Regions from separate parts of the Homo sapiens genome. Here all the other regions are linked to region 1. Evidence: fine-mapped expression QTL. A gene starts in region 1. Each other region holds a variant in brackets. All regions are shown on one strand. Distances are from middle to middle.

Region 1 (4,241 bases):
GTAGCCAACGTTTATTTTGAATACCTTGGCATCCTTTCTTTGCCACATTCTTCTTAGTATTCTTCATGGAGTTCCTTTCTTTTAAAATCAATGGAATGGCAGGGTTGCCACTATTGTCCTTCTATGGTTCACATCAATGATCTGTGATTACTTTTTTTTTTTTTTTGAGATAGTCACACGCTATCACCCACACTGGAGTGCAGTGGCTCAATCTTAGCTCACTGCAACCTCCTGGGTTCAAGCAATTCTCCCGCCTTAGCTTCTCGAGTAGCTGGAATTACAGGCGCATGCATCCCTGCCCAGCTAATTTTTTAATTTTTTAATTTTTAGTAGAGACAGGGTTTCACCATGTTGACCAGGCTGGTCTCGAACTCCTGACCTGAAGTGATCCACCCACCTTAGCCTCCCAAAGTGCTGGGATTACAGGCGTGAGCCACCGCGTCCTGCCTGTTATTACTTTTTTACATAAGTGGCTATTCTGTTTTAGCCTCTTGAACAACATGCAGCTTTTACTAGGAGTGTGTCTGGCATTTGAATTAGAAAGGAAGATATTAGTATTCATTGAGGGCTTACAATACATCAGGTGCTTCATAGTCACAAATTCATTGAACCCTCACAACAACCCTCTATAAAGTAGCTCCTAGTGTTCCCATATAATAGATGAGGAAAACTGAGACTTGGCCACATCCCCATAGTTACAAACCATTAAGAAGGATTAGCAGCCAGGTCTACTATGAATCCGGAGGCCCCATTCTCTTCTGCTACCAGTTATCACCTCCTTCTACAGTTTCTCTTTGCCTTGGTTTTTCAGTTCCCTTCGATTCAAGTAACAAGAGGAAATATATAAGAAGGAAAGGAGGAAGATGGCTTTGGGAGGAGGAGAGGGAAGAGAGTGAAGCAATCTTTAATTTTGAAAACAGGGAAAACAAATATTTAGAAAGTAAAACCGATTTCCATCCTTTACATGCCATTATACATCCTATACAAAACTCTGGAAATCTGCCTATTGAGGTAATTACGGAGCACTACCTAATGTGTTTCAAGGGAAAGCTCCCCTGTTTGGGCTATGCAGGATTTACAGGGAGTTTAAATCATTAAATAACCATAGTTGACCCTTGCTTGGTTAAGAGAGTAAGCAATTATTGCAAAGTCCTCTTCCCTGCCTTCCACAAACAGCACAAAAACGGTTCTGAAGGGATTTACACAATACATCAACATCTGTGCTGTACCTAGAGTTGTTAAAATAATTGTGATGACAGGTGTCTAGGTACCACTTTCTTAATGGTTTTCAATATCCATTGATTTATTGTTTTGTGGCTTTCTCTTCCCCTTTACAGCTTTGGCTTTAAGAAAGAGCTGGGGAACAGATTTTGCACCAGAGGCTGATTCTTTATTCCAATGCTGAAAAGAACTAATAAAAATAATCACTTGGCTTTTAAGCAGAAAGCTTCCATTTACAGTATTTCACCCTTACCCCGCCCCGTTCCAAGCCCCTTGTTATCTAACATAATGGTTAGAATACATTTCCGTCTCTCCCCTTAATAATTTCATGCATTAACATCCTCTTCACACACTATACACACACGCACGCGCGCACACACACGCGCGCGCACACACACAGCAAAAGGAAAAAAGAGGCAGCAGAAATCTCAGCTGTACTTCTAGCCCTTTTAAAAAGTTTGCTCTGTAAATTGGAATGAGGTCAGATTTGGAGCTTCTCATTGCACGCGGAGATTATTATTGCATCGGGTTCCAAGCCAATGGGAAGCCCGGGGGAGGGGTTTGGCATGAGGAAGCGTTGGTTACAGCAGCTGATTGGCTGCAGCCAAGACTGTGAAAGGATAAAGAGGCGCGAGGCGGAATTGGGGTCTGCTCTAAGCTGCAGCAAGAGAAACTGTGTGTGAGGGGAAGAGGCCTGTTTCGCTGTCGGGTCTCTAGTTCTTGCACGCTCTTTAAGAGTCTGCACTGGAGGAACTCCTGCCATTACCAGCTCCCTTCTTGCAGAAGGGAGGGGGAAACATACATTTATTCATGCCAGTCTGTTGCATGCAGGCTTTTTGGCTTCCTACCTTGCAACAAAATAATTGCACCAACTCCTTAGTGCCGATTCCGCCCACAGAGAGTCCTGGAGCCACAGTCTTTTTTGCTTTGCATTGTAGGAGAGGGACTAAGTGCTAGAGACTATGTCGCTTTCCTGAGCTACCGAGAGCGCTCGTGAACTGGAATCAACTGCTTCAGGGAAAAAGAAAAAAAAAAAAAAAAGACTTGCCTGGGAGGCCGCGAGAAACTTGCATTGGAAGCTTCAGCAACCAGCATTCGAGAAACTCCTCTCTACTTTAGCACGGTCTCCAGACTCAGCCGAGAGACAGCAAACTGCAGCGCGGTGAGAGAGCGAGAGAGAGGGAGAGAGAGACTCTCCAGCCTGGGAACTATAACTCCTCTGCGAGAGGCGGAGAACTCCTTCCCCAAATCTTTTGGGGACTTTTCTCTCTTTACCCACCTCCGCCCCTGCGAGGAGTTGAGGGGCCAGTTCGGCCGCCGCGCGCGTCTTCCCGTTCGGCGTGTGCTTGGCCCGGGGAACCGGGAGGGCCCGGCGATCGCGCGGCGGCCGCCGCGAGGGTGTGAGCGCGCGTGGGCGCCCGCCGAGCCGAGGCCATGGTGCAGCAAACCAACAATGCCGAGAACACGGAAGCGCTGCTGGCCGGCGAGAGCTCGGACTCGGGCGCCGGCCTCGAGCTGGGAATCGCCTCCTCCCCCACGCCCGGCTCCACCGCCTCCACGGGCGGCAAGGCCGACGACCCGAGCTGGTGCAAGACCCCGAGTGGGCACATCAAGCGACCCATGAACGCCTTCATGGTGTGGTCGCAGATCGAGCGGCGCAAGATCATGGAGCAGTCGCCCGACATGCACAACGCCGAGATCTCCAAGCGGCTGGGCAAACGCTGGAAGCTGCTCAAAGACAGCGACAAGATCCCTTTCATTCGAGAGGCGGAGCGGCTGCGCCTCAAGCACATGGCTGACTACCCCGACTACAAGTACCGGCCCAGGAAGAAGGTGAAGTCCGGCAACGCCAACTCCAGCTCCTCGGCCGCCGCCTCCTCCAAGCCGGGGGAGAAGGGAGACAAGGTCGGTGGCAGTGGCGGGGGCGGCCATGGGGGCGGCGGCGGCGGCGGGAGCAGCAACGCGGGGGGAGGAGGCGGCGGTGCGAGTGGCGGCGGCGCCAACTCCAAACCGGCGCAGAAAAAGAGCTGCGGCTCCAAAGTGGCGGGCGGCGCGGGCGGTGGGGTTAGCAAACCGCACGCCAAGCTCATCCTGGCAGGCGGCGGCGGCGGCGGGAAAGCAGCGGCTGCCGCCGCCGCCTCCTTCGCCGCCGAACAGGCGGGGGCCGCCGCCCTGCTGCCCCTGGGCGCCGCCGCCGACCACCACTCGCTGTACAAGGCGCGGACTCCCAGCGCCTCGGCCTCCGCCTCCTCGGCAGCCTCGGCCTCCGCAGCGCTCGCGGCCCCGGGCAAGCACCTGGCGGAGAAGAAGGTGAAGCGCGTCTACCTGTTCGGCGGCCTGGGCACGTCGTCGTCGCCCGTGGGCGGCGTGGGCGCGGGAGCCGACCCCAGCGACCCCCTGGGCCTGTACGAGGAGGAGGGCGCGGGCTGCTCGCCCGACGCGCCCAGCCTGAGCGGCCGCAGCAGCGCCGCCTCGTCCCCCGCCGCCGGCCGCTCGCCCGCCGACCACCGCGGCTACGCCAGCCTGCGCGCCGCCTCGCCCGCCCCGTCCAGCGCGCCCTCGCACGCGTCCTCCTCGGCCTCGTCCCACTCCTCCTCTTCCTCCTCCTCGGGCTCCTCGTCCTCCGACGACGAGTTCGAAGACGACCTGCTCGACCTGAACCCCAGCTCAAACTTTGAGAGCATGTCCCTGGGCAGCTTCAGTTCGTCGTCGGCGCTCGACCGGGACCTGGATTTTAACTTCGAGCCCGGCTCCGGCTCGCACTTCGAGTTCCCGGACTACTGCACGCCCGAGGTGAGCGAGATGATCTCGGGAGACTGGCTCGAGTCCAGCATCTCCAACCTGGTTTTCACCTACTGAAGGGCGCGCAGGCAGGGAGAAGGGCCGGGGGGGGTAGGAGAGGAGAAAAAAAAAGTGAAAAAAAGAAACGAAAAGGACAGACGAAGAGTTTAAAGAGAAAAGGGAAAAAAGAAAGAAAAAGTAAGCAGGGCTGGCTTCGCCCGCGTTCTCGTCGTCGGATC
Region 2 (4,241 bases), 430 kb before region 1:
GGGCTTGGAGTAATTAAGCAGACATAATATAACACATAAAGGAATTTATTAGGCTTTTATTAAGGCTTGATAATTTGAGTTTCAGATTTTAAATCTCAAAGGGCTCATAATTGTTGTCATTTTCTACTAAAAGCTGCATTTAGAAAGAAGTTAAACTGTGGTGCAAAGGAAAGGCACGTTTCAATGGAAAATTCAAAATGCCTTTTTCATTAATTCAGCACTTGAATGCAAGTGCCTATTGTGCCTAGCGGGAGGCTTTTAATAAGTAATACAGACGCTGCTTACATGACTTAATTTATGCCGATATTTTCTTGAAACTGTGTTAGTTGCAGGAAGTAGAGGTTTGAGGTTGAGATATGTCCTGGTAGAGAGGGAAGAGATTATTTCAAACTCCAGAAATGTGAGTGAATTCTAATTTGCCAAGCCAATTTAAGTCTTAGAAGTAAGGTTTTTAATTTCACTATTGACTCAAGAAATCACTGGGACCATTCCAGGTCTCTGCAGGATGAATTTTGGAATAGTTTGTAACATTGAACAGCCATCTTCTGATTAAACATCTTCTCTCCTTGTTAACTCCTAATTCCCCATAAAATAATCTATTTGGGGTCATGGAAATGTTCCCCAACAAAAGCAATACTTTAAAATTTAAGAAACCTAGAACTGAAAGCTGAACCTCTGATGGAAAACAGGTAAATGGGGCATTGAACTCTGAGGCCCATTCCATGGTTTTGCCCAGAACCAGCTCTGGCCTTGAGATTTGAGTTAGCAGAATTCCAGTTAACTGAAACTTTGCTCTAGAATTGAAAGTAAAAACAAAAGCCACCTGACTCAATCAGTCTCAGCATCACATATGTAACTTCCTTGATGCTTGTTAGCTTTGAAGGACCTAGAAAAAGTCTGGCCTGCTGGGCACAGTAGCTGACGCCTGTAATCCTAGCTACTCAGGAGGCTGAGGTGGGAGAATCGCTGGAGCCCAGGGGTTTGAGACCAGCCTGGGCAACATAGCAAGACCTTGTCTCTAAAAAAAAGGTTTTCTTAATTAGTTGGGTGTGGTGGCATGTGTCTGTAGTCCCAGCTGCTCAGGAGGCTGAGGTGGGAGGATCACTTGAGCCCAGGAGTTTGAGGCTGTAGTGTGCAATGATCACACCTATGTATAGCCACTGCACTCCAGCCTGGGCAACACAGCAAGAACTCATCTTGATGGAAGAAAGAAAGGAAGGAAAGGACAAGAGGGAAAGGGGGAGGGAGGAAGAGAGAGAGGGCCTGGCTTGAATAGCTTAACTAATGCCACAGCTGAACCCTTCTATGGTAATCACAGTGAGGCCAACTGGGACAGAACAATATTAGGAATCAACTCCCTAGCACACAAAATCTGCCTTTAAATTTAAGCCTGATGTATAACGCTAGCAAATGCCCGTTTTGCCTCCTCCTCACTGCCAGCACAACCTTGCCTTGTGCAAAAGTCACTTCTCTTGAGATTACTGCAGATGTGGTGGTTGTTCCTGAGTTCTCGTTCATGAGCCACCTTCCTGGGGTCGGTTTTATAACCTCCTCCACTTCATTCTCTCAGTGATGCAGAGGCCTCACATACATCATTAGCTGCTTTAGACTGGATCCTGACCTCTTAATCTTCACAGTAACCCAAAACAAACACCCGCTTGGGGCCACCGGCAGAACCCACCGTGGTTTGGGAATACAGTAGCCTTTAGTGTCTTGATTTCAAGTCACCATCTTTTTCACTTTCCTCATCTGTTTCTTTTTCATCCTAGTCATGTTCCCTCTCCCTCAAAAGTTCTTTAACCAATCATCCAAAATCCTTACTGTGGAGGCCTCTAAACCACAGGCGTTTGTCAGATGAAAATCAGAAAAAGGCATGTGGTGTTGAGTCATAATCTTAAACTTTGTAGTCTTGAAATAATGCTGTTATCTGGCCGGGCGCGGTGGCTCATGCCTGTAATCCCAGCACTTCAGGAGGCCGAGAGACGGGTGGATCACCTGAGGTCAGGAGTTTGAGACCAGCCTGGCCAACATGGCAAACCCCATCTCTACTAAAAATACCAAAATCAGCCAGGCATGGTGGTGCATCCTGTAATCTCAGCTACTTGG[A/G]AGGCTGAGGCAGGAGAATCCCTTGAACCTGGGAGACGGAGGCTGCAGTAAGCCAACATCACACCATTACACTCCAGCCTGGGCAAGAGGAGCGAAACTCTATCTCAAAAACAAAAAAAGAAAAGAAAAAGAAATAATGTGTCTATTTTAGTTATTAATTAGGCTCCCTGTCCCTAGCATTGCCCCTCTACCTAGCTCCAGAATGACCTATTCCACTGCTCCTAATTGTTGGTCTACTAAATGCTGGTCCAGGATGACATTTTCACCAAACTGCAGAAGAGATAAGAAAAACAAAGACAGTACAACTTACAGCTTAAATTGATGATTTAAAAGATTTAAAATCACTTCCTATTTTGAAATGATTTATTGTGATCATAGATTTGAAATTTTAAAAAATTATGTACCTGCTTGTAGAATGAAAAGTACACAACCTTATAAACAAGCTGGGTTTTTTAAAAAATTTCCACTCATTTTACTAGCATTTAGAATCTCAAAAACTGGGACCTAGATTTAGCCAGAACCCAGAAAACTGGGACCTAGGATCTAGCCAGAACCCAGATTTAACCTCACTGCCATGCCTCATACCCTATAGCAGCCACTGTAACCTACAAAAGCAAGTCCAGGTGCTTCAACCATAACACACACAGACCGGGGCTGGCCCTTTACCACTATCCATCATTGTCTCCCAGCATTCCCTGTCCTGGAACTAAATTGGCTTGATGCCATTTATGCCTAATATTGCTAGCCAGGTAAAATCCATCCATGATGGTCAAGTGTAAACTTAGAAGCTTATATTCATAAACACAGACTCAAAAATTCTCAGCATCAAAGATGAGGTCAGAATGCCCCCTCATCTTCCCTGACTACTTTCTGCTTGAAACAGGCTTCCCGCCTTTATAAACTGGATTCACTGTATTCATCATCCTTGAAGCTTGACTTGACCAGCTTTGTGCCAGCCTTTAAGCCACCACTGTAGCTTGCCTCTTCATCAACAGCATGTATACATAATATTGGAAAGAATCTTTTTAAAAAAATGTCTTTGCCATCACTAGGCTGTAAAGCTCCACCAGAGGAATCTAATTCATCTTCATGGCATAGCACACACTGGGAAGATTTCTCTTTAAACTGAAATGAACGAATAGACAGCTAAGATGTGGTTAATCAATGTGAAAGCAAAAACCCTTTCTTTCCTCCTTCCCCAGGTGTCTCTTCAAAGGAATAAACTTCCTTCCTGGCCAAAGCCTTGTGGCAAAGTAATTGACCACAGCTTTGACAGCAACAAAGATGACCTCTTCACATCCACTTCCTTAGCCCTTTCCTTCCACTTTCTGTTTCAGGAGAAGAAGGACCATTTTGTTGTTATTAAAATGACTATGCTGTTCTAAGAATTTCTGACTGATTACTCCACTCCTGCCATCAGCTTCTTCTTTACGGCCCAACTCTCCTAAAATATGGTGCTGGATTTGTTGTGTTGTAGAGTAAAAATAATATTGTTATTGTGAATTCTAAGGTCAAAATATAAAGAGTCAGAAAAATAGCTGATAGCTAATGGATTCTTTTTATTTACTCCGAACAGTTCTAAAAGGATATAGCAAATATGTTCATAGCTTCTTTTTACTTTTGGGAGTTTTTACATTTGGGATAATTATTAAAAATCTTTATAATTATCCATCTCCTTCATTTTGCTTTACAGAGAAGGAAATATTGAAGTTAAATGCTCTGATTTGAGAGCTCGTAGAAGAAACAACATTAGTAAATTACTGTGTTGACGTATAGTTCTCATTTTCATAGTATTTTCCATTTCATTCAACCAAAGGCATTTCTTTAGCACTGACCATGTCATGTGGTAGCTGCTGAGGACAGAGGATGAGTAGGACACTTCTTACTGCCTGAGTCAAGGAGGCTACTAGGAGAGTCTGTACTCTGCGATGACAGCACAGTGCATGGCATCCTATGAGCGTGCTGACTTAAAAGAGAGAGAGCTTTACGCACCTGTGGGCAGGAGTCAACTCAGGGGAAGTTTCCCAGAGGAAGCAACACTTGAACTTAAAGCCTAGTTCTGTGATTAGGAGGTGATTCTGGAAGTAGACTGCCTGGATTCACATCCTGGCTCTTCCACTGACTACCTGTGTGAC
Region 3 (4,241 bases), 770 kb after region 1:
TATGGATTCTGAAGAAGGTAAACATCCCCAGGTTCATGAGCCTGTTCAGACAGGAAAGACAGTACTGATTGCAATCTGCTGTTAGTGTTTCCTTTTATATTTGTTCAGTGCTTTGAGTCATTCTTTCTCCTTTTCTTCTCTGAAACTACTAACATTGCTCCTCCAGTAGCCTTTTGCATTTACAAGCTACCTTGTCATGCCTTGGTTTTTGGGGAAGAGGAGATAGATGTAAAGTGAGGCTACTGTAAACAACAGTTCAATAGAGGCTTCAGAACAGGGTCCATTTAGGGAGGTGAGTGCAAACATTCCATGAAATAAAAAGAACCGCTTCTGTGAGCTCAACTCACAACAGGCACAGCCACTGGCAATAGCAGCCTGAGAAGGAGCAAATTTGAGAGCTGGGTCTGTTATTCTTATTTTTGTAAATCTTTGCACCTGTCTTTGGTGGCAAGATTCTCAACTCATTTCCCTTGTTTCTGTTCCTCCTCCTCCCTGCACTCCATGCCTCTCTGGGGTTCTGCTTGTTTTGGAACTAGTGATTCAAAATGGACTCCAACATTGTTTCTGAATCACAAAGCGTTTGCAGAAGAGGGAAGTATTTCTTGCTCCATTCCAAGCCCCAACACAGAAGGTGTTGTATGGAAAAGGGAGCTGAAGGGAGAAGAAAAAGAGGAGGAAAAAAAAAGAGGCAAAAGTAAAAAACTCAAGGAAATCAAGACCATGCTGTGCAAAATTGTTACAGCTGTTTCTGTTTTTATTGGCTGTTTCTTTTGGCTTCATTTTTCCAGCAACTGCAGTTCATGTGAGCAGGAAGGCATACAGCATGGCCGAGCTCCACGGTGGGCGGAGGGGAGGACAGAAAAGGGACTGAGAAAAGGATGGAAGGGGCTGGGTGTGGAGGTTATGAATTGTGGCACAGTGCTTAGAGGGGACACACATCAAAGCATTTCTTTTTTTGATAGTTTTGTGGAAGCCTTAGCAATAGAATTTAGAGGCATTTACTGGAAAGCTCCTAAAAGCATCCCATCTCCATGGCTGGATCAGATAGGTGGTCTGTTTAAGGCAGTATACTATCCTTGAAATGATGCTCTGATATCTGTGAGGAAATAATGTGTCAAGACACATCCCTTCCCCTTTCCCTCCTGGATAGTGATTCACCTAGACCAGTGCACAGGGCAGAACATACGGGAAGTGCATATTTTCCCTGGGGGACTCTATTTCTCATGGTTACAAATGGAATGAGTTATATGCCTGCTCAGTGACCCTATGAAGATATTGGCAGCTGGGATACAGCACCTCAGGGCTTGGAGCGAGTTGCTCACCCACCTTGATCCCCCTGCAAAGCAGCTGGAAGGTGAGCCAGAGACAGGCACATGAAAAAAGCTCACAATGAGTCTCTGTCTCTTTCTTAAAGCTTCCTATTAAATATGTGATTTAAATGACATTTTTAAGGTTTATAAGACTGCTTACATTGGAATTCTTGAATGTGATAGTATTTTTAACTGCACTGGCCCTAACACACACACACACGCGCACACACACACACACACACACACACGTTCGCACTGACTCTCACTCTTTTTTTTCTTTTTGAGACGGAGTCTCACTCTGTCACCCAGGCTGGAGTGCAGTGGCATGATCTCGGCTCACTGCAACCTCCACCTCCCGGGTTCAAGCAATTCTCTGCCTCAGCCTCCCGAGTAGCTAGGATTACAGGTACCCGCCACCAGGTAATAATTTTTTGTATTTATAGTAGAGACAGGGTGTCACCATTTTGGCCAGGCTGTTTTTGAACTCCTGACATCGTGATCCACCCGCCTTGGCCTCCCAAAGTGCTGGGATTACAGACTCTCACTCTTAATCAAATTAATTTTCCAAACTCTAAGGAAACATCTTTCTAAAAGTGAAAATTGTGTTCCAAATGAGGGCAAGTGGGTAAGAGAACTGGAAGTTAGAAGATAGAGCAAGAGGAAAAAGTATTTACTTATATTTGACTTGCAGTTATATCCGAAGGGAAAATACAATAAAAAGTTGATTAATAACAACAAAACCTCCCTATATCTGGTGATAAAACATTGTTTGCATGCTTTCACATTTTAAACAAAATTCCAGCTATGCTGTAGAATGAGAGGTGAGCCAGAATCCCAGTGCCCATGCATTGGTTCTGTTTTGGAGACTTGGTTTTACTCTGAACTGGGCTTCTGACTTACTTGGCTACTGGAGGGCAAATCATAACCAATAT[A/G]TCTCAGTGCTGTCATCCAAAAATGGAGGTGGACTTGGGAAGATGGACTAATTAAAGGTTGCAAAGCACTTTTGAGTCTATAAAGCCATATGTAATTGCAACCATTAAACCTAGTAATATAATGAAGTGTTGAAAGTTGTGTCTTCGTCATTTTGTTTTCTAAATTCAGTGAGAGACTCCTTCAAAGCCCATTCTGTTTACTTTCCCAAGGAAATTGTCTCAGTCCATTTTCTGTTGCTGTAACAGAACACCTAAGACTAGGTAATTTATAAAGTAAAGCGATTGATTGGCTCTAGAGGTTGGTAAGTCCAAGAATGAGGGGTTGCATCTGGTAAGGGCCTTCTTGCTGTGTCATAAAATGGCAGAAAGCATGACATGGTGAGAGAGAGCAAGAGTAGGCCAAATTCAGCTTTTATAGCAAGCTTCTGATAAGAATCCATTCATCCAGAGTCCTCATGACATAATCACCTCTTAAAGGTCCTACCTCTCAACACTGTTGCACTGGGGATTAACTTTCCAACACATTAACTGTGGAAAACACATTCAAACCATAACAGAAATTAATGAATGAAAAAACTGGTGATTTGGGCCAATGCGCTCTTGAACAGTTATGTATTTTGAGATATACCAAGCTTTTTTCTGCATTTCCTAATATTATTTTTATGTTCATTATGTTACTATTAAACATTTTTTCATTACGTTATTATTTTCTTATGTATTAATAGTAGTTAATAATACATTTACCAAGAATTAAATTTGTTTAAAATTTCGCAGTTGGGGCAGAGTTTACCAAATGTGGAGTGAGCCTATCTGTTGTGAAATAGAACTCACTAACCTCTTAACACAGGAAAATCAGTGATTTCATCAGATTAGAATTACATAGAGAAGCTATTCTCTGGGTGCAAAGATTGAAATTGCTTCTTGTGAAAGACACAGTTTCACAATTTCTTGTGAAATTGTTTCTTGTATCTAGTTTAAAACAGACACAAGAGAAACTTCATATGTAGTGCTGACACGTAAAGAGTTGGAGAATGAGTTGTCCCTTTGCGCCTCAACTTCTCCCTCAATGTCATGGTGGGCAAAATTATTTTGCCTTAGGCTTTAGCTGTAAAATGGGTTGCTAGCACTTGACCACAAATGGAATAATTACAATGAGGTTTGGAAGCCTACAGCATTTGTATTGAGGACATTTCCCCCTTGTGCATCTGTTAACTGTTATTACAGATTTGAGATACCATTAATCAGTAGCATCTTTAACAAATGTAGAGTAGATTTTTGCATACTGAGGTTCAGCCAGGCACCCCCATTAGCTGGCATACATTGGACCTCACTTGCAAAAACATGTTTCTGCTGTTATTCTTACAGAAGGCTGTATGTTCACACACATGCACAATTATGAGACTGAACACTCCCTTCTTCTTTGGATTGCTCTTTGATCTTTTGTAATTTTGCTGCTTGTGTCCATATGGAAATGTTAGCAACCAGCAGGCAATTCCTTTCTATTATGATTCCTCCTGATTCCTCCTCCATTGTCTTTCCCCTTGTTGTTTCTTGTTTGCATTGGGCTCCAGACTGATGCCAACATTTCAACGGGGTACACCTCATCAGTTTCAAAAGCTCAATTTGCTTTAAGTAGCCAGCAAAGCTTACCCTTATTTTTAAGTACCTGTTTATACCTGAGTTTCCCTGACATGCAATGACAACTTGGGCATCTCAAGAGAAACAGTTTTCTTGTGAGCCTGGAGACCTATGGGATTAGGCATGTAGGTCATAAATGCTGTCAGCATTAAGCTTGTTTTTAGTGCAGTGCTCTCTGGATTTCCATTTTGGTCTTTAATGACTAGGAGTACATATAATAACACACAGGCATGACCTCATCCAAAGACAATTTATTTAAAAATTGTCTTGGAATTAAAAATTCCAAACCCTAAAAAAGCTTAATTTGTGGGTGGTAGTTTATAACCATTTCTAAAATTTCTTCCTGTCTGTAGTACCCAGT

The links. PIP is the estimated chance that this variant, and not a neighbour inherited with it, causes the effect.
Region 2: its variant is the best candidate, but not a certain one, in a credible set for the expression of SOX4 in whole blood (INTERVAL, PIP 0.80).
Region 3: its variant is the best candidate, but not a certain one, in a credible set for the expression of SOX4 in blood mononuclear cells (TOPMed, PIP 0.56).

What each region holds. Positions count from the first base shown.
Region 1 is chr6:21,591,880-21,596,120 of GRCh38, forward strand. SOX4 (SRY-box transcription factor 4) reads left to right here and starts at 1,872. Exons shown (of 1, transcript NM_003107.3): 1 at 1,872-4,241. The coding sequence starts at 2,656. The coding sequence ends at 4,080. RefSeq lists silencers at 2,483-2,662, 3,433-3,522, 3,573-3,622.
Region 2 is chr6:21,161,740-21,165,980 of GRCh38, forward strand. All of the region lies in intron 13 of CDKAL1 (CDKAL1 threonylcarbamoyladenosine tRNA methylthiotransferase), which reads left to right. Among named protein-coding and RNA genes, the nearest start is that of LINC00581, 350 kb to the right of the region's middle. RefSeq lists enhancers at 1,877-2,021, 2,089-2,233, 2,103-2,247 and cis regulatory regions at 1,949, 2,161, 2,175. The variant A/G (reference allele first, on the strand shown) is at 2,107.
Region 3 is chr6:22,363,291-22,367,531 of GRCh38, forward strand. It overlaps a transcript of LOC105374971 not described here. Among named protein-coding and RNA genes, the nearest start is that of PRL, 68 kb to the left of the region's middle. The variant A/G (reference allele first, on the strand shown) is at 2,243.